2 separate regions of the Homo sapiens genome follow, and region 2 is linked to region 1. Evidence: fine-mapped expression QTL. A gene starts in region 1. The other region holds a variant in brackets. All regions are shown on one strand. Distances are from middle to middle.

Region 1 (9,216 bases):
TTCCTTGCAAAGCCCTAGAATTTCAGGGTCCTCTGCTGGCAACAGTGGTGGAGATGCGTGGAGACCCCATCTCATGATGGGCCAACTGTGAGACTCTTTCTTTTTTTTTTTTTTTTTTTTTTTGAGATGGAGTCTCGCTCTGTTGCCCAGGCTGGGGTGCAGTGGTGCAATCTCAGCTCACTGCAGCTTCTGACTCCTGGGTTCAAGAAATTCTCCTACCTCAGCCTCCCGAGTAGCTGGGATTACAGGTGCCCACCACCACGCCTGGCTAATTTTTGTATTTTTAGTAGACAGGGTTTCACCACGTTGGCCAGGTTGGTCTCGAACTGCTGACCTCAGGTGATCCACCCGCCTCAGCCTCCCAAAGTGCAGGGATTATAGGCGTGAGCCACTGTGCCCGGCCTTTTTTTGTTTTTGAGATGGAGTTTCGCTCTTGTTGCCCAGGCTGGAGTGCAATGGCGCCATCTCAGCTCACCGCAACCTCCGCCTCCTGGCTCCAAGCAATTCTCCTGCCTCAGCCTCCTGAGTAGCTGGGATTACAGGCAGGTGCCACCACACCCGGCTAATTTTGTATTTTTAGTAGAAACAGGGTTTCTCCATGTTGGTGAGGCTGGTCTCGAACTCCTGACCTCAGGTGATCCACCTGCCTCGGCCTCCCAAAGTGCTGGGATTACAGGCGTGAGCCACGCCTGGCGAGAATCTTTCTTTACTCCTGTTCTTTCTCACCCAGCTGGCTTTGAAAAACTTCCAACCTACAGAAAAGATGAAAGAATAACGAACATGTTTATGCTATTCGCCTAGATTAATCCATTGTTCCCGTTTTTCCGTTTGCTTTGTCTCTCTCCAACTACCTGAAAAATTTATAATTTTTTTCTGCTGAAATATTTAAAAGTCAGTTGCTTGGGGCCAGGTGCGGTGGCTCACACCTGTAATCCCAGCACTTTGGGAGGCCAAGGCGGGAGGATCACGAGGTCAGGAGATCGAGACCATGGTGAAACCCCGTCTCTACTAAAAATACAAAAAAAAATTAGCCAGGCATGGTGGCAGGCGCCTGTAGTCCCAGCTACTCAGGAGGCTGAGGCAGGAGAATGGTGTGAACCCGGGAGGCGGAGCTTGCAGTAAGCCGAGATCATGCCACTGCACTCCAGCCTGGGCGAGAGAGCGAGACTCTGTCTCAAAAAATAAAAATAAAAAATAAAAAATAAAAGTCAGTTGCCAAATCACGGTGCTTCACTCCTAAGTAGTTCAGCATGTATATCCAAAGGGGCGTTCTCCTGTGCAACCATAATATTATTAAGAAAGGAAACAATAAAGTTAGCTAATACACTGTACATATTCAAATTTGCTCAATTGTCCCAGTAATCCCATATAGCTCTCCCACCCCATCCCCACTGCAGACTCCTTTAAACTAGAACAGTTCTCTTAAGATGTATTTAAGTATTTCCACAGTCAAGAAACATCTACTACAAAAATCCACATAATCTTTTTACAACAGAATCTAATGACTTCTAAGACTTTTCTGATCTATCAAAATTTTTCTTATAATTGTGAATGGTGGCTCAAGCTCTCTTGTGTTCTACCTTTACTAGTTTACATTATGGTTTTGTTTTTTTTTTGAGACAGAGTTTTGCTCTGTTGCCCAGGCTGGAGTGCAGTGATCACTGCAACCTCCGCCTTCTGGATTCAAGCAATTCTCCTGCCTTAGCCTCCCGAGTAGCTGGGATTACAGGCGTGTGTCTAATTTTTGTATTTTTAGTAGAGACGGGGTATTCACCATGTTGGCCAGGCTGGTCTTGAACTCCTGACCTCAGGTAATCTGCCCCCACTTGGCCTCCCAAAGTACTGGGATTACAGGGGTGAGCCACTGCACCCGGCCTATTAGCTGACATTATCTTTCATAATTTTTTTTTTTTTTTTTTTACTGTGTGTGAACTGAGAATTCATGCTGTGAGAACAGGCAAAGCCACTCAGGCACTGCAGTAGATGATTTCAAGGTAATTCATGTCTGTTCTTCAATCCATGGTTCTGTGATATTTTAGGTTTAATGGCAAAATGTCATTTCTTCATTAAAGCATAATGTTTGGGCCAGGTGTGGTGGATCATGCCTGTAGTCCCAGCGCTTTGGGAGGCCGAGGAAGGTGGATCACTTGGGGTCAGAAGTTCAAGACCAGCCTGGCCAACATGGCGAACCCCGTCTCCACTAAAAATACAAAATGTAGCCAGTCATGGTGGCACGCGCCTGTAGTCCCAGCTACTCGGGAAGCTGAGGCAGGAGAATCGCCTGAACCCAGGAGGCAGAGGTTGCAATGAGCTGAGATGGCACCACTGCATTCCAGCTTGGGCAACAGAGACAGACTCCATCTCAAAAAAAAAAAAAAAAAAGTATGTTTAATTCTGCACAACAGTGGGGTTTGGGAGCTTTATCACTTTTTTTTTGTTTGTTTGCTATTCTAAGTAGTTTTGTGAGAACATCTCATACAAATAGATCTGTTTTAAAAGTAATTTCCCGGCTGGAGTGGTGGCTTGTGCCTGTAATCCCAGTACTTTGGGGGACCAAGGCAGGAGGATCTCTGGAGCCCAGGAGTTCGGAACCAGCCTGGGCATCATAGTGAGACTCCGTCTCTGTATTTGAAAATGATAACAAAATACCAAGAAGAGATGGAAAAAGTAAATACATAAAAGCAATTTCCCGAGGACAGTGTTTTTCAGAGACTGGTCCTGGACCATCTGTAGCAGAATCACCTGAGGAGCCTGCTAAGCTTCCCAAGCCCTGCCCAGACCTAGGGAATCCTCCGGGTGGAGCCTAAGAGTCTACATTTGAGTATCAGGGCTTTAGGCTATACTGGCTAGCAGAAGGTAAGGCCCATGAAATGGCCCTTTTCATCCATGGCCATGCTGTCCTTGGGAAAGATGGTGGTGGCCGCCGTGTATGACGTCCCTTGTTCCAGCTGTGGGTTTAGAGAATCCCTCAGATTTCCTCTGGAGATTCCAGGTGCCAAGACACCTGTAGGAGGAAGGCCGGAAGGGAAAGGTCAAGTCCGGAGCAGAGGCGTGGACCGCGGCAGGCTGCTGTTGGAGCGTGCTGGGCTCAGAAGCCGGGTTCTAGCTAGGAAACTGCGGAGTGGCCAAGGAGTTCCTGGCGCGAGGCACGCCACACAACCCTCGGATGCGAAGACGGTGACCATCCATTTCTCAATACGCCAGTGGCCCTGCCGTGCTACTGAGCCTCGTCAGCCTGTATAATGGAAGCTGAAGATGATGCAGCTCAGGAAAAGCAAGTATGATCTTAAGAACCCTGTAGCTGGAAAGCATGTTCCAAATCAAACCTAATGGAGACAACTACTAGAAGGTATAAAAGTTTTTTTTTTTTTTGAGACAGAATTTTGCTCCTGTTGCCTAGGCTGGAGTGCAGTGGCGCGGTCTCAGCTCACTGCAGCCTCTGCCTCGCCGGTTCAAACGATTCTCCTGCCTCAGCCTCCCAAGTAGCTGAGACTACAGGCGCCCACCACCACGCCCGGCTACTTTTTGTATTTTTGGTAGGGACGGGGTTTCACCATGTTGGCCAGACTGATCTCAAACTCCTGACCTCAGATGATCCGCCCGCCTCACCCTCCCAAAGTGTTGGGATTACAGGCGTGAGCCACCGCGCCCAGCCCAAAAGATTTTAAAAAGGAGTCTCTTGGAGGCAAAGGGACAGAACATTATTGTTTTTCATCATAAACCTTTTGGTGCAATCTGATTTTCTTTTTTTAAACCATGTACTTGCACTATTTTTATCTCAAAAAAGGTTTTTAATGCATTTAAAAACAAAGAAAAGAATGGTTTATAATACACCGTTAGGCTTCTGGGAGGTCTGAAACACACTATGAACCGTAAAATAACCTTGTAATTATCTCCTTAAAAACCGAGTGGGGTGGGCCAGGCGTGGTGGCTCACGCCTGTAATCCCAGCACTTTGGGAGGCCGAGGCGGGCGGATCACGAGGTCAGGAGTTCGAGACCAGCCTGACCAACATGGTGAAACTCCGTCTCCACTAAAAATACAAAAATTAGCCGGGCGTCGTGGCGCGCCCCTGTAGTCCCAGCTATTCAGTCGCAGAAGAATCGCTTGAATTCGGCAGGCGGAGGCTGCAGTCAGCAGAGACCGCGCCACTGCATTCCAGCCTGGGCGACAGAGACTCCGTCTCAAATAAACAAACCAAAACTGAACTACGGAGACGCCCTCGACAGTTCTTTCCCGGCTGCGTCGCCGCTGGCTGAGGTCAGAAACGCCGGCCTTCGGCTGCGGCGGCGGCTGCGGCGGCGGGGCGGGGCCGCGGGACTCTCGCTCCTCGCGGGAGGCGGTGGCTGCGGAGTGCGCACGCGCGGAACCGCAATTCCGTTCTTCCCGGAAGTGCCCTGCTGGTGCTGGGAGTAGGGCGCAAGATGTCGGCGGATGCAGCTCCGAGGAGGTAGGCAGTGGGAGCCGGCGTTCAGTCCGGCCCGTGCCAACAGTGGTTCCTCTCTCCCCCGTAGTTCGAGGAGACCACGCGCTGCCCCTCTGGCACGATCGTGGATGAACCCCCTGGCAACTGAAATGGGAAAGGCAGCGCCCCCGACTCTGGGGACTGGACCGAAGTCCACGGTAGTGACAGCTGCCAGACCCTGAGGAGAGGACGAGAAGACCCGAGGCCTCTGCTACGAACACTGGCAGCCGATGGAAAATTCAGACGGATTTGGGACAGTATGCAGAGTTCTCCAAGCGACAGATTAACAGAGGCTCTTGAAGAATAACTGCGTAATCACGTGTTCTGCTCAAAAGAAGGCCTGAATGCCCAGTGCCTTATTTGGCTTTCAGGGTTGGTGAAAGAAAAAGCAAAGTAGATGCTTTCTAATGCTAAGTCATTTAATGTAGCACCATTCCTTGAACTTCTTTCATCTCTAAGGTCGTCCCTTTCACCTGATGATGACCTTTGGGCCATCGTACAGGCATGTGTAAACTTGGAGATCTTCCTCAACATTGCACCATATCTTGGGTTCATTCAAGGCAGAGTCTCCTTGCAAAAGCATTCTAAAACAATGTAAAGTCGAAGAGAGTAGAGCAATACCTCCATAGTTGGAAAATGTGGAGGAGGCCAATTAAGGGACAGAAAAAGAAGTGCAGAGAATCTTGGAATTGTTGCAAAATTATTCTGGAGATATTTCTAAGTCTCCTCTATCCTTTTCCTTAGTGATTAATACAGGTTTTTATATTAAGTGGACAGTAAAATCCAAACAGAAAGAGGTATATGTCGTATAATGAAGCCTATGTTCAAAGTATATCTGAAATTTGTTTTTATAATGTCTTTCTTGAGAGCTTATAAAGATGTCAGTATTCTGTGGGAAACAAATTGGCACATGCATAAAAGAGAAAAAATGAAAAAAATCAGGCCCAACTTTCAGTTTACAGATGAGGAAACTGTGACATAGAAAAGGAAATGACAAAGATCACACTGAATCAGACCTGGGAACTGGAGCCCAGCCATGCTCCTTGGCCCAGTGCCTCTTCTTATTCTAGGAGCTCATACCCCTTTGAAAGAAACATAATATGAATGTGTCTTCAAATGATGCTCATAAATCTCTTCATCATACTGAGGGAGGGAGATAAGGGGATTAGTTCTTCAGGATCTAGACAGGCTTTCAAGAAAATCTTTAGCTGGGTGCGGTGGCTCATTCGTGTAATCCCAGCGCTTTGGGAGGCTGAGGCAGGTGGATCACCTGAGGTCAGGAGTTCCAGATCAGGCTGGCCAACAGCGTCTCTACTAAAAATACAAAAATTAGCCAGGCATGGTGGCGGGAGCCTGTAATCCCAGCTACTCGGGAGGCTGAGGCAGGAGAATCGCTTGAACCTGGGAGGCGGAGGTTGCAGTGAAGTGAGATCGTGCCATTGCACTCCAGGGCAACGAGTGAAACTCCATCTCAAAAAAAAAAAAAAAATCATCATCATCATCATCTTAGCAGAGCTCTCGCTAAATGATAAAGACTTGGCAACTGATATCCTTTTTTTCAGAGAACTTAAGTAGAGACTGGATAATCACTAATTGGGGTTGTGTTTAAGGGCATTCAAACCTCTGAAATCTCTTCCATCTGCAGGTCTAATTATTTGGTTACTCTTTCAGTACATGTGTGCAGGAAGCATGGGGGGAAAGAAAACTAATCCCTCTCCAAAGTCTTCTTTGAATAGGTATTATGTTTGCATTTTCATACATGTTAGTTCACTTAGTCTTCACCATAGGCTTTCTAGGTTGGTATTATTCTTAGTCTACCTAAGAAGTTCACAAAGGTTAGGTGACATGCTCCAAGCCACACAGATGATAGGCGGCACAACCAGATGATACTACAGGTCTCCAGATGAGTGAGCCAATGATTACATAGTTTGTTCCCCAGCCCCTCCCCAGTGTAGGTAAAGTGCCTGCACTGCTCACTGGGTCATCAGAGCAAGTTGCTCCCACTGCCCTCTTGGTCTAACGGCTAGAAACAAAGCTGCAACAGAGGCCCACTCCTACTAGGAGACAGGCATTTTAATTGGCACCTCCTTACAAAGGCTCCAGTGTTCTAGAGCTTTGCATACAGGAAGATTCTCGTTGAACAATGAAGCCAAACCTCGCTTCCAAAATTCCCAGTTTGGTAGTTCACTGTGGATGAAGAGGCCGGAGACACCCTTAGACAAGCTGGGACCGTGATGATAGGAACCAGTTTGTGAAGGGAGGAGGCTGGGCTAACAGGATCTAGGGAGATAGATGATATCTGGACCTTAGGTAGTTCGTGTTACTCAAAGTCAGCAAGGTTTTTGTTGTTTTTTGAGACAGTCTTGTTATGTTGCCCAGCCTGGAGTGCAGCAGTGCGATCTCAGCTCGCTGCAACCTCCACCCCGTGGGTTCAAGCAATTCTTGTGCCTCAGCCTCCTGAGTAGCTGGGACTACAGGTGCGGGCCGCCACACTTGGCTAATTTTTTGTACTTTTAGTAGAGATGGAGTTTCACCATGTTGGCCAGGCTGGTCTTGAAGTCCTGTCCTCAAGTGATCTGCCTGCCGCAGCTTACCACAAGTGCTGGGATTACAGGTGTGAGCCACTGCACCTGGCCAAGATCATTTGATGTTCTTGGGTGAATGGCCACTTTCACCTGGATCCCACCAATTTTTGGTGCCCTAGGGAGCATGATCCAGAGTTCCCTCAAGACAGAGGATGTGCTAAAGGCAAACTCCAGAGGTCATCCTATCCCCATGCCTTCCGCCTTTCTAAAGAGAAGCTCTTCTGCCCTGCTGTTACCACTCAGTACTCTAGATTAAACCTGTTCCCCACGTTCATTCTGTACCCATGACTATATTTCTGCTTCCTGGAAAGTTGTAGCCATAGGAATGAAAAACTCACCAATCAGTTGTGGTCTTCCTGAGGCAAGTCAGTCACCTTCCTACTCTGGTATCTTCCATGGCTACCAGCTGGCCACAGAACCAAGCACTGACTCACCAGCCTCCAGTCTGGTTCCTTTTCAGCCTTTTTGCCACCCCTACAGCCCATACTACATCATCCATTCTGGCCATCTCAGATTCTTCCTTGCTAGCTCCCACCTTTCCCTGCATCCAGTCCTCTGTACTATTTCATCTATTTGAACACTCTTTTCTCCCTGCATCCTGGGTCTCCATTCAAATCTTCCTCTTCCCTGGAAGTACAGCTTCAGTGGTTAACATCACAAAGCAAAGCTGACTTCAGCAAACTTTCCAAGACAACCAGGGACCAACACAGTTCAGATTAAAGGGGATAAATAAAGTGGCTTTAAGATCACTTGTAGTTCAGAGGTCACCCAGGGGATTAGGATCTATGCAGAGACCTGCAGAGCCACGCTGCTTCCCCAAGGGACCCCCTTCATGCTGCTGGAACTTGCCCTACCCCTCAGGAGAAACTGGGCTGCTGTAGCTGCGTCACGCAGGCGGCTGTGGGCCAGCCCGGAGCAAAACTGTGTTGCTTGGCATTTCTCCACTTCCTCTCGTGGCCGACGTCATTCTGTGACTGTGCAGGGATTCATGCTCGCCATTGCACTCCACAGTGAGATACTTGAATTGATTTAAAATTTATTCACCCCAGTGTTCACTCCCACCTTAGCCCCATTCCATGCGCCCTTACCCTTACTCATCGCAGTATCAAAATAACTCCCAAATGGGATTGCTGTGCTTGAACACCTCCCATCATGCCTCTTACCTTCTGCATGCATTTAGTTAGTTCCTGAAGCATACAGCCCCCTCACCTGCAAGCCCCGCCTCAGCGCACACCCTTGCCAGGTTGGAGGAAGTCCTGGTACCCGGAGCAGTTTGCTTTGTTTTTGCAGTGTCAGTGATCTCACAAGCACTTGGTTGGCCACACAGTCCTATCGATAACTTCCAGCAGATAACCCAAGTGGGTGACTGGGGGGTGGAAGCCAGGTCTCGGTTCCTGTGTGTGACCCAAGGCCCCCCAGCACAGGGCCCACCCTCTCATCTGGCTCAGCCAGGTCTTGCAGAATGGGCTCTGCTGAGATCTAACCAGACACATTTGCTATCTGTTAGGTGAGCTCATTCCTGGAACCTAGCAGGTATTCCGTTCATGGCTGACTCTCAAGGGAATGAAGGGAAAAGGAAGAGCGGGTCTGAGATCCTTTGGATTATCTTTACGAAGCAAAAGCTTCTGTGAACTGTGATCTTCAGAACGAATGCTGGGCCTATCCAGGTCTGTCCGCAGTACCCAAAGTCGTAGCTCCGTGATGAGCTATGATGTAGCCCAGCCACACTCAGTGACGGCTCCTGGTTCCTCACTTGCCAGGGCAGCTTCAGTTCCTGCCGCGGTGTCAGTGCAGATTGATTCCCGCTGCGTTACTGAACGAACTCCTGACCCTGGGCTCTGAGCTGATGAGCTGGCTCCAGAAGGTGTTAATCATCATCACTCAGGTGTGCTGTCCTCACAGAGTCCTGGTGCACCTGGGATCCCAGTAGCTCCACATTTTCTTTGCTGCCTTCGAGGTTCACATCTTCAGGGTCCCACTATGGAGAAAAGATGCAAAGGGTAGCTGGGTGGAACGGATAGATGCTTCTCATCTGTCATAACCCCTGACCCAAACAAAAGCTCCAATCTTGGTTCTCATGATCCAGGCACAGACAAGGACAAAAGGGTAAGGACAAGTTACCCAGGCCTGTGTTTCTGGGACCTAAGGAGGCAAGCATAACTTTACA
Region 2 (9,914 bases), 41 kb after region 1:
AGGCGGGTGGATCACCGAATGTCAGGAGTTCGAGACCAGCCTGGCCAACATGGAGAAACCCTGTCTCTACTAAAAATACAAAAATTAGCTGGGCGTGGTGGTGCATGCCTGTAGTCCCAGCTACTCGGGAGGCTGAGGCAGAAGAATCGCTTGAACCCAGGAGGCGGAGTTTGCAGTGAGCCGAGATCGTGCCATTGCACTCCAGCCTGGCTGACAAGTGAAACTCCGACTCAAAAAAAAAAAAAAAAAAAAAAATACCAGGAAGGGCCCACCCCCAACCTCTTCCCTGTCTTGGTTCTGTTCTCTGAGACTTAAGAGAACAAGGCTGCTCTTTCTGCCCCCACACAGCCCTTCTGATTCCTGCACTCATCAGCTTCCTTTTTTCCAGGCCAGATTAGATTGCTCTCTAAGTGTTTGCTGACTCCTACCATGATCAGGTCCCAGGTGCCTGCAATGCAGTGGGAAATGACACAGACAAGGCCACTGCCCACAAGGTGTTAACATTCCACCTCAGGACCGGGCAGCAACCGGGAAAATAAAGGGGCACATTTCAGGTTGTTACAAATGATCTGAAGAAAATAAAGCAGAGTGAGGGGACACAGTGGTGGGGCTGGCCTGGGGGCTGTTTTAGGTGGGGTGGTGTTATGAGTTGCAATGTGTGCCCCCAAAAGATGTTGAAGTCCCTAGGCCGGGCGTGGTGGCTCAAACCTGTGAGGCCAAACACTCTGGGAGGCCAAGGCGGGCAGATCACTTGAGGTCAGTAGTTCGAGACCAGCCTGGCCAACATGGTGCACTCTCGTCTCTACTAAAAATACAAAAATTAGCCGGGCGTGGTGGCGTGTGCCTGTAATCCCAGCTACTTGGGAGGCTGAGGCACAGAATCACTGGAACCCGGGAGGCAGAGGTTGCAGTCAGCCGAGATTGCATCATGCACTCCAGTCTGGGCAACAGAGCGAGACTCTGTCTCAAAAAAAAAAAAAAAAAAGATGTTGAAGTCCCAACCCCCAGTGTCTGTGAATGCGGCCTTATTTGGAAATAGGGTCTTTGTGGATGATCACGTCAAGATGAGGTCATTAGGATGAGTCCCATTCCAATGTCCTTATAAAAAGGAGCAAGTCGGACACAGAAAGGTACGGAGGGAAGGCCACGAGAAACCCAGGGTTACCACAAGCCAAGGGGCTACCCGAACCTGGGAGAGGAGCGAGGCCTGGAACAGATCCTTCCCTGGCGCCTGCAGAGGGAGCATGGCCCTGCCGGCACCTTGCTCTCAGACTTCTGACCTCTGGCACCGAGACAATAAACTTCTGTTGTTGAAAGTTAGTGGCACTTTGTTACGACAGCCCTAGGGAGCTACTACCGGCGGTCAGGGCACGGTGCCAGCTTCTTCAAAGGCCTTCATGCAATGTGGTCTCCCAGCTCTGACACCACCCTGGAGAGCCACCCCGGTGGGCTGCTGAGCTGAGCCCAGTGCTCACCACTCTCCCCTCCATTAATCTAAAGACAGGACACCTGCTGATGAGGCCCAGGCCCTGCGAGGCTTCTGGCAGTCACAGCACAGAATGCAGCTTCACTGACTTCACCAACAACCGCGAACAACCCTCCAGCCCTGAATCCTGTTCCCCTGGAGCTGCTATTCAACCAAGATGCTCCTGGGCAAGTAATTTTTTTTTTTTTTTTTAGATGGAGTAGTGCTCAGTCACCTAGGATGGAGTGCAGCAGCACGATCTCGGCTCACTGCAACCCCCACCTCCTGGATTCAAGTGATCCATCCTGCCTCCACAGTAGCTGGGATTACAGGCACCCGCCACCACGCCTGGCTAGTTTTTGTATTTTTAGTAGAGACGGGGTTTCAGCATGTTGGCCAGGATGGCCTTGAACTCCTGACCTCAGGTGATCCACCTGCCTCGGCCTCCCAAAGTGCTGGCATTACAGGCATGAGCCACCGCACCCAGCTGATTCTTTTCAGACTAAATGGGCCTATGACTTGCCATGGAGTTGGGTTTGCCCACTGTTCTGTCAGTGAGACAGGAACAGTTGTCTCAGAGTCGTCTGCAGAGGAAACTTGGCAGAGCAGCGGTCACACGTCCACAGTGTCTTGCTGTTTCTCAGGCGCTTTCGCACGTGGGGGCTTTTCCTGTGTGCTCTCCTCTGCCGATGGCCTTTCCCTAGCCTGTGTCCTCAAATTCACGCTCCCTTCTGAGGTAACGTGACGCCTCCCCACCACCCCACGGTCTGGCAGTGTAAACAGTTTTCACCCTTGCTCATTTGAAGAGCGTAGGAGCCTTCTCTCTCTTCTGAAACCCCAAACATTTGTTTCTATCTTTCTTGAAGCGTGAGGAGATGCTGCTTCACATTCCCGTGTCTTCCATGAGACTGAGCTCCCGGAGGGCAAGCGCTCGCCCCTGCTCACATCTTACCCCCCCCAGCACTGGCCGACACAGGGCCTCCCTCAACGTGGATGCCTGGAGAATGCCTGCCCATAAGACACTCTTTTTTTTTTTTTTTTTTTTAGACGGAGTTTCCCTCTTGTCGCCCAGGCTGGAGTGCAGTGGCACAATCTCGGCTCACTGCAACCTCTGCCTCCTGGGTTCAAGCGATTCTCCACCTCAGCCTCCAGAGTAGCTGGGATTACAAGCATGCACCACCATGCCTGGCTAATTTTTGTATTTTAGTAGAGACAGGGTTTCACCGTGTTGGTCAGGCTAGTCTCCAACTCCTGACCTCAAGCGACCCGCCCCGCCTCGGCCTCGCAAAGTGCTGGGATTCCAGGCGTGAGCCCCCGCGCCCGGCCTAAGACACTCTTGATCTACACAGAACCTCACACCTGGCTGCCTGTCCGGTGTCAAATCTCCTTCTCTTATGGGTTCAGCCTCAGGGGCTTCTTCCTCAGAGCCTGCTTTTCATTTGCTATAGGAAATGGGGAAGAACACACGGGCTTTCCCCGAGAGGCTCCCGCCGTCCTCAGGACGCCCTGGGTTGGCTGCCCACTCTCCACACACACCCCCTCCTTGCTGTCATACACACTAACGCTCTTCAGGAAAAGCTGAGCCCATGTCCATGCACCCACGGTGACGCCACACCTCCGCCCCATGACCCTCTCAGGATGCTCCCAGATGCCCTGAGACTGTCATGTGACCCACAGTCCCATCCCCACCCCCGGCCTCACAATTCTGGAGAGAGGGGGGATCCGAGAAGCCCAGGAGCCAAAGGCAGCAACGCTACCCAGCAGGTAGCCGAGGATCTCAGTATTTTCCTGCAAGAACGAACAGGTGATCCACCATCAGTACTCTGCAGAGACTGCCCATGTGCCCCAAGAAACAGCCAAAGCTCAGGAGTCCTTTTCTGCTTTTAGAGGGTTCTTCCAACAAAGGAAGGCTTAACCCCACTCCCCTAGCCCCGGCCTCATCCCACCCTGGGCATTTGGCAGGACATGCAGTACCCCGAGTCCTCCCCACGGTGGCCCAGCCTCACCTGCAGCAGGCTCGCTAGCAGCCTCCGCTGTGGCCCCCGGATGGTGGCTGAAGCCTTCGGGACAGCAACCCACAGAGCCCAGCACGGGCCCAGGCTCAGCGGCAGGGCCAGGGCAAACACACTGGCCCTGAGCTGCCGCCTCCTCTTCCTCTCTCGGGCTTCCCGATCTGCAACAGACACCAAAATCCCACATGGCTCCTGGAAGCCAGACCTTGTCAGATCAGATAGCTGCGTGGGAAGAACTGGTGTCAGCTCCCCACATGATGCTGAAGCGGGTTCCCACATTATTCTGCAGGCCAGCTCCTCCCCACCCTTCAGGGCCCTGTAGTTGTGCCACCTCTTCAAGGAGTCTTTCCTCTCCACCACTGACTGCACACCCCACCCCCATAACGTGCTGCCCTCCTTCCTCAGGCAGAGATGACATTATCTTCTCTCTATGCATCTGCGTGCAGACAGCAGTGCCTCTTCTGGACTAGAGCGCCTAAGGATAAGGCACCATCCTCTGGTGGTTTCTACAATCTCCACAGAGCAGAACCGGTACAAGTGTGGTACAAGCATCGACCCGTGAATCAGCGATGGCACCAGCGGGAACTGTGCGCGGGACAAACAGCAATGAGCAGTGTCTTTGTCCCTGAACTGTAAGATAGGCACTCCTCTGAGCAATTCTGTTTATTTTTTCTTTTTGAGATGAGGTCTCATTAGGTTGCCCAGGCTGGACTTGAACTCCTGGGCTCAAGCGATCTCCCACCTTGGCCTCATGAGTGGCTGGGATTCCGGGTGTAAGCCACTGCCCAGCTCTCTCCTGAGAAACTCTAAGAAGAGCATTTCTCTTCTGGGCAGCATTGAGCCGCTGAGGGCATGCTTCACTACACACTGCTGCAGCACCCCCTCTGATTCATTTATTATTTTTGAGACAGGGTCTCGCTGTCACCCAGGCTGGAGTGCAGTGGCACAATCACAGCTCACTGCAGCCTCCACCTCCTGGGCTCAAGTGATCCTCCCACCTCAGTCTCCCAAACAGCTGGGACCACAGGCATGCACCATCATGCCCAGCTACTTTTTAAAATGTTTGTAGAGATAGGGTCTTGCTATGTTGCCCAGGCTGGCCTCAAACTTTTGGCCTCAAGCAATCTTCCCAACTCAGCCTCCCGAAGTGCTGGGATTACAGGCATGAGCCACCACACCACTTGGTTCATCCCCTTTTTTTTTTTGAGACAGAGTTTTGCTCTTGTTGCCCACGTTGGAGTGCAGTTGTGCGATCTGCAACCTCCAGTTCCCGGGTTTAAGCAATTCTCCTGCTTCAGCCTCCCAAATAGCTGGGATTATAGGTGCATGCCACCACATCCAGCTAATTTTTGTATTTTTTTAGTAGAGACAGGGTTTCACCATGTTGGCCAGGCTGGTCTCGAACTCCTGACCTCAAAATGATCTGCTTGCCTCAGCCTCCCAAAGTGCTGGGATTACAGGTGTGGGCCACCATGCCCGGCCCCCTCATCCCCTCTTTTTGAACAAGGGCCCAAGCACATGGCTGACCCTTCTCAAGAAGCCGCAACCACAGACACTCGGGGCCACTCATCCTGGCCCAGTCATTTCCGACCCCTGCTGTGCCTGTGGTGGTGCCCTGTGCCCATTCCTGGCATCCACTTCCAGTAGCTGTGAAGCTTCGCTTGACCACCCCGAACTTGCACACTAAGCTATCACTGCTCATGCCCATGCCCTGCTCCACACCTCCTCCTAGCCTTTGCCCATGCTGCTCTGTGTGCCTGGAGTGCCCTGCCTGTGGCCCCAGCTCTAGTGCCCCATGCTTCCTTGACACCAGCAGCCCTTCCCTCCCTCTGGCTGCCCACAGTGTGCACACACCTCCAAGCTGGCAGCCCTAATGAGACACTCTCCTTCTTTTTTGGGGGGGGGGGGTTGTTTTTGTTTTTTGTTTTTTTTGAGACGGAGTCTCGCTCTGTCACCAGGTTTGTTGAGACGGACTCTTGCTCTGTCGCCAGGCTGGAATGCAGTGGTGCGATCTCAGCTCACTGCAACCTCCGCCTCCTGGGTTCAAGCGATTCTCCTGCCTCAGCTTCCCGAGTAGCTGGAATTACAGGCGCACGCCACCACACCCGGCTAGTTTTTGTATTTTCAGTAGAGACAGGGGTTTCACCATGTTGGCCAGGATGGTCTGGATCTCCTGACCTCATGATCTGCCCACCTCAGCCTCCCAAAGTGCTGGGATTCCAGGC[G/C]TGAGCCACCGCGCCCAGCCTTTCTCCTTTGTTTGTGCCTGGCTGGGGCCCGCTCTGGGAGTGATAAGGAGTAGGCATTCGGCGTGCTGATGAATGAATGGGTGAATAAAGACAGGAAAAGACAGCCACACACTCACCTGAATTAGACTTGAATTTGGATCCACAGACTGGGAAGAGAATGAACATAAAGTTCACTAAGTCAATAGCTGCTAGGTAGGCACCAGTGAAAACCTGGGAGCAAACGGGAAGAGAGTCTTGGCATTCAAGCATCTTTCCTCAGCCCCTACAGAGTTTGTCATCCGGGACCCTGTATCACATGGGTTACACTGATGCGGTGCTTTCTTACGTACTCCTCCAGGGACACCTCCTGCCAACCCCGGAAAAGTCCATTATCATGTCCACTTGGCTGATGAGGAGATGAGGTGTTTACATGACTGAACCCACGGTATGCAGATGCCCACCAGCAGGGTTGGGATAAGAGCCCAGCCCTCCAGCTCTATTCCACACACTTCCCACTGCGTGAGGCAGTCTCTGCTGTGTACCCTTGGCCCACTGAGCTTCTCTGGCGCTCAGTTTCCCCATCTGTAAAACGAGCAAACTAACAGTGCTTCCCTCAAAGACTGTCAGGAAGGTTACTTGAGACAGTACATGGGCAGTGTTTACACCAGTGTCTATGGGAAAGCAAACTACCTCTAAAGGCACCAGCTCCTCTGATAGTAGAGTTAGCGGTGAAGAACTTGCATTGTGGAGTTTGAATCGCGGAATCTTGGCACTGCTACTTACTAGATGGGTGACCCTTAACCTCTCTATGCTTCAGTCTCTACATCTGTAGAACAGGAATAATGAGGACACTCATGTCATAGGATGCTGGGATTCCAGGAGTCAACACAAAACGGTCTGTAGTGCCAAGTATGTAGTTAAGTTTTTTTTTTTTTTTTTTTTGAGACGGAGTCTCGCTCTGTCACCCAGGCTGGAGTGCAGTGGCGTGATCTCGGCTCACTGCAAGCTCCACCTCCTGGGTTCACGCCATTCTCCTGCCTCAGCCTCCCGAGCAGCTGGGACTTCAGGCGCCTGCCACCACGCCCGGCTAATTTTTTTTTGTATTTTTAGTAGAGACAGGGTAGTTTTTAATAAATATTATTATTGGACTTGAGCTGGGACCTACTGTATTTTTTTTTTTTTGAGACGAAGTCTTGCTGTTGCCCAGGCTGGAGTGCAGTGGCACGATCTCGGCTTACTGCAACCTCCGCCTCCCAGGTTCAAGTGATTCTCCTGCCTCAGCCCGCTGAGTAGCTGGGACTACAGGCACGCGCCACCACGCCCAGCTAGTTTTCTCCATGTTGGCCAGGCTGGTCTTGATCTCCTGACCTCAGGCAATCTGCCCGCCTTAGCCTCCCAAAGTGCTGGGATTGCAGGCATGAACCACTGTGCCCAGCTGGCCCTATTGTATTCTATTAGCTAATGAGAATGGGCACCCAAAATGAAAGGTGATTTGCTTTTGAGACAACACTGCTTGAAGCAGGGTCTAGAATGCTCCAAATCTGTGCTCTGCCAACTGAGCTGCCTTCCTTCATTTCTACCTGGATGGGCATAAGACCAAGACCAGTCCCATGAGGTGCCTCCGCAGGAGGGCACAACAGGTTTTCCTGGGGATATGTGTTTTGGGATAGGAGCCTTCCACACAGGTTTGAGGGCCTACGCTTTTGAGAAACTTGAAACTACTTCTCACTTGCCCCAAAGCCTACACCACTACCTGGGAAAGGACTCAGCCACCCTACATAAGCTGGGGCTGGGTCAAAGCTCTAAATGACTATGTATTGGGCACCTACTAGGAGCCAGGTGCTGTTTTAAGTGATGGGGATACAGCAGTGAACAAATCCTTGCCCTTGTAGAGCTGACACTCTAATGGGAGTTCACATACAAGAAGTAATAAACAGGTCAGGCGTGGTGGCTCAGGCCTGTAATCCTAGCACATTGGGAGGCTGAGGCAGGCAGATTGTCCTGAGGTCAGGAGTTCGAGACCAGCCTGGGCAACATGGTGAAACCCCATCTCTATTAAAAATACAAAAAATTAGCCAGTGTGGTGGCGTGCGCCTGTAATCCCAGTTACTCGGGAGGCTGAGGCAGGAGAATTGCTTGAACCCAGGAGACGGAGGCTGCAGTGAGCCAAGACCAAGTCATTGCATTCCAGCCTGGGCGACAGAGTAAGACTCTGTCTCAAAAAACAAACAAGCAAAAAAAAAAGTCACCTTCTCAATAAGACCTCCCCTGCTTATAATGGTGACCCACCTCTTCCACCAGTGTTCTGGATTCCCTTATTCTAATCTATTTAGAGGCCTGCCTCGGCCTCCCAAAGTGTTGATTACAGTGTGAGCCACTGCTCCTGGCCGTGAGAAGTGACTTTTGAGCAAAGACGTGAAGGACTAAGCAGGCAGCCAAGTGGATATTGGGAACAAGAGCCTCTGAGGGGGGCAGAAGGAACAGCCAGGCACAGGTTCTGAGGTGACACTGTGCTATGCATGTTGCAGCAACAAGACAAAAGCCACCACGGCTGCAGCAGAGAGAAAGGCCAGGCCTCCCTTAGTGCTGGCCTAAGCCACTGTCAGCTGGAGGCCCAACATACCTGGATTGTGAGCTGTCTGGCCAGAAGAGCCCCGACGGTGTCACACAGACTGGTCAGGAGGCAGCACGCAGCACACAGTGCCGACTGGTCCTGTCTGGGTTTCTGTGCACATCTCAGATAGAGAAGCCTGGGGTGACAGGGGTGTGGACAGAACACAGCAACTGTGAGTTTGGACCCAAACGCATGTATCTAAAAAGGGCAACTGTGACCCCGCATCGTCAGGGAGCTCTTTCTGCCCGAGGTATTTAGGACGTGTTTTTGAACTGAGTTTACAGATGGGAACCAATCAGAAGACTCCAGAGCCGCCTGTCCAGATGCCCATGGCAGGAGCTAGACCTCGTGAGATGTGAAGACACCGCCTCTTTGGAGGAAGAGGAATTTTACTTTCCGACTCCAAATCAGGACGGCTCCATTTGATGACCCCCCACCTAGCACTGAAAAAGCAGCCATCGGGTTTTATTTTTTGAAAAGGAAACAGGAGGGTTATAAAAGTAACTCAGGCTGGGTATGGTGGCTCACACCTGTAATCCCAGCAGTTTGGGAGGCCGAGGCAGGAGGATCCTCTGAGGTCAGGAGTTCGAGACCATCCTGGCCAACATGGTGAAACCCCGCCCCTACTAAAAATACAAAAATTAGCCGGGTGTGGTGGCGTGCGCCTGTAATCCCAGCTACTCCGGAGGCTGAGGCAAGAGAATTGCTTGAACCCAGGAGGCAGAGGTTGCAGTGAGCCAAGATCACACCATTGCACTCCAGCCTGGGTGACAAAGCGAGACTCCGTCTCAAAAAAAAAAAAAAGCAACCCAACCACTGCAGATAACTGCAGAGCACAGTTAATTGCCTGAATTAAAAAGACAACTTGTTTCTCTGAAATAAATTCAAACGAAATTCTTCTAAACCATCTGTGAAGTGGGGCAGCCTGGCTTCTGCTGGCCTGTGTCCATGTTCTTTAAACACAGAGCCCTTTTGGCACTTGGAGCTGTCCCTCCCTCAGCGCCCCCACAGCCACTTCTCCCCTTACAGCCCCTCCCCAGTCCATATCCACTGGAGAAGATGCACGGAAGGGCAGGAAGGGGCTGGCTGTTTCTATCAGCGTCACTGATAGGGCCTCTGAAATACGTTGTTGTACATGCCTCCCGAAGGGGCTGGCTGTATCTATCGGCGTCACTGATAGGGCCTCTGAAATACATTGTCGTACATGCCTCCTGAAGGGGCTGGCTGTTTCTATCGGCGTCCCTGATAGGGCCTCTGAAACACGTTGTCGTACCTGCCTCCCGAAGGGGCTGGCTGTTTCCATCGGCGTCACTGACAGGGCCCCTGAAATAATACGCTGTCGTACCTGCCTCCCGGAGGGGCTGGCTGTTTCCATCGGCGTCACTGATAGGGCCCCTGAAATAATACGCTGTCGTACCTGCCTCCCGGAGGGGCTGGCTGTTTCCATCGGCGTCACTGATAGGGCCCCTGAAATAATACGCTGTCGTACCTGCCTCCCGAAGGGGCTGGCTGTTTCCATCGGCGTCACTGATAGGGCCCCTGAAATAATACGCTGTCGTACTGCCTCCCGAAGGGGCTGGCTGTTTCCATCGGCGTCA

The links.
Region 2: its variant is fine-mapped to the expression of TMEM44-AS1 in minor salivary gland (GTEx, PIP above 0.99).

What each region holds. Positions count from the first base shown.
Region 1 is chr3:194,579,613-194,588,828 of GRCh38, forward strand. TMEM44-AS1 (TMEM44 antisense RNA 1) reads left to right here and starts at 4,656. Exons shown (of 3, transcript NR_047575.1): 1 at 4,656-4,836. It overlaps TMEM44 (transmembrane protein 44), which reads right to left. Exons shown (of 10, transcript NM_001011655.3): 10 at 8,066-9,027. The coding sequence ends at 8,917. RefSeq lists enhancers at 3,922-4,587, 4,623-4,672, 9,076-9,216 and a silencer at 4,173-4,432.
Region 2 is chr3:194,620,058-194,629,971 of GRCh38, forward strand. TMEM44 (transmembrane protein 44) reads right to left here. Exons shown (of 10, transcript NM_001011655.3): 2 at 8,326-8,452; 3 at 5,840-5,933; 4 at 3,472-3,638; 5 at 3,167-3,253. Among named protein-coding and RNA genes, the nearest start is that of TMEM44-AS2, 7.9 kb to the right of the region's middle. RefSeq lists an enhancer at 2,592-3,135. The variant G/C (reference allele first, on the strand shown) is at 5,703.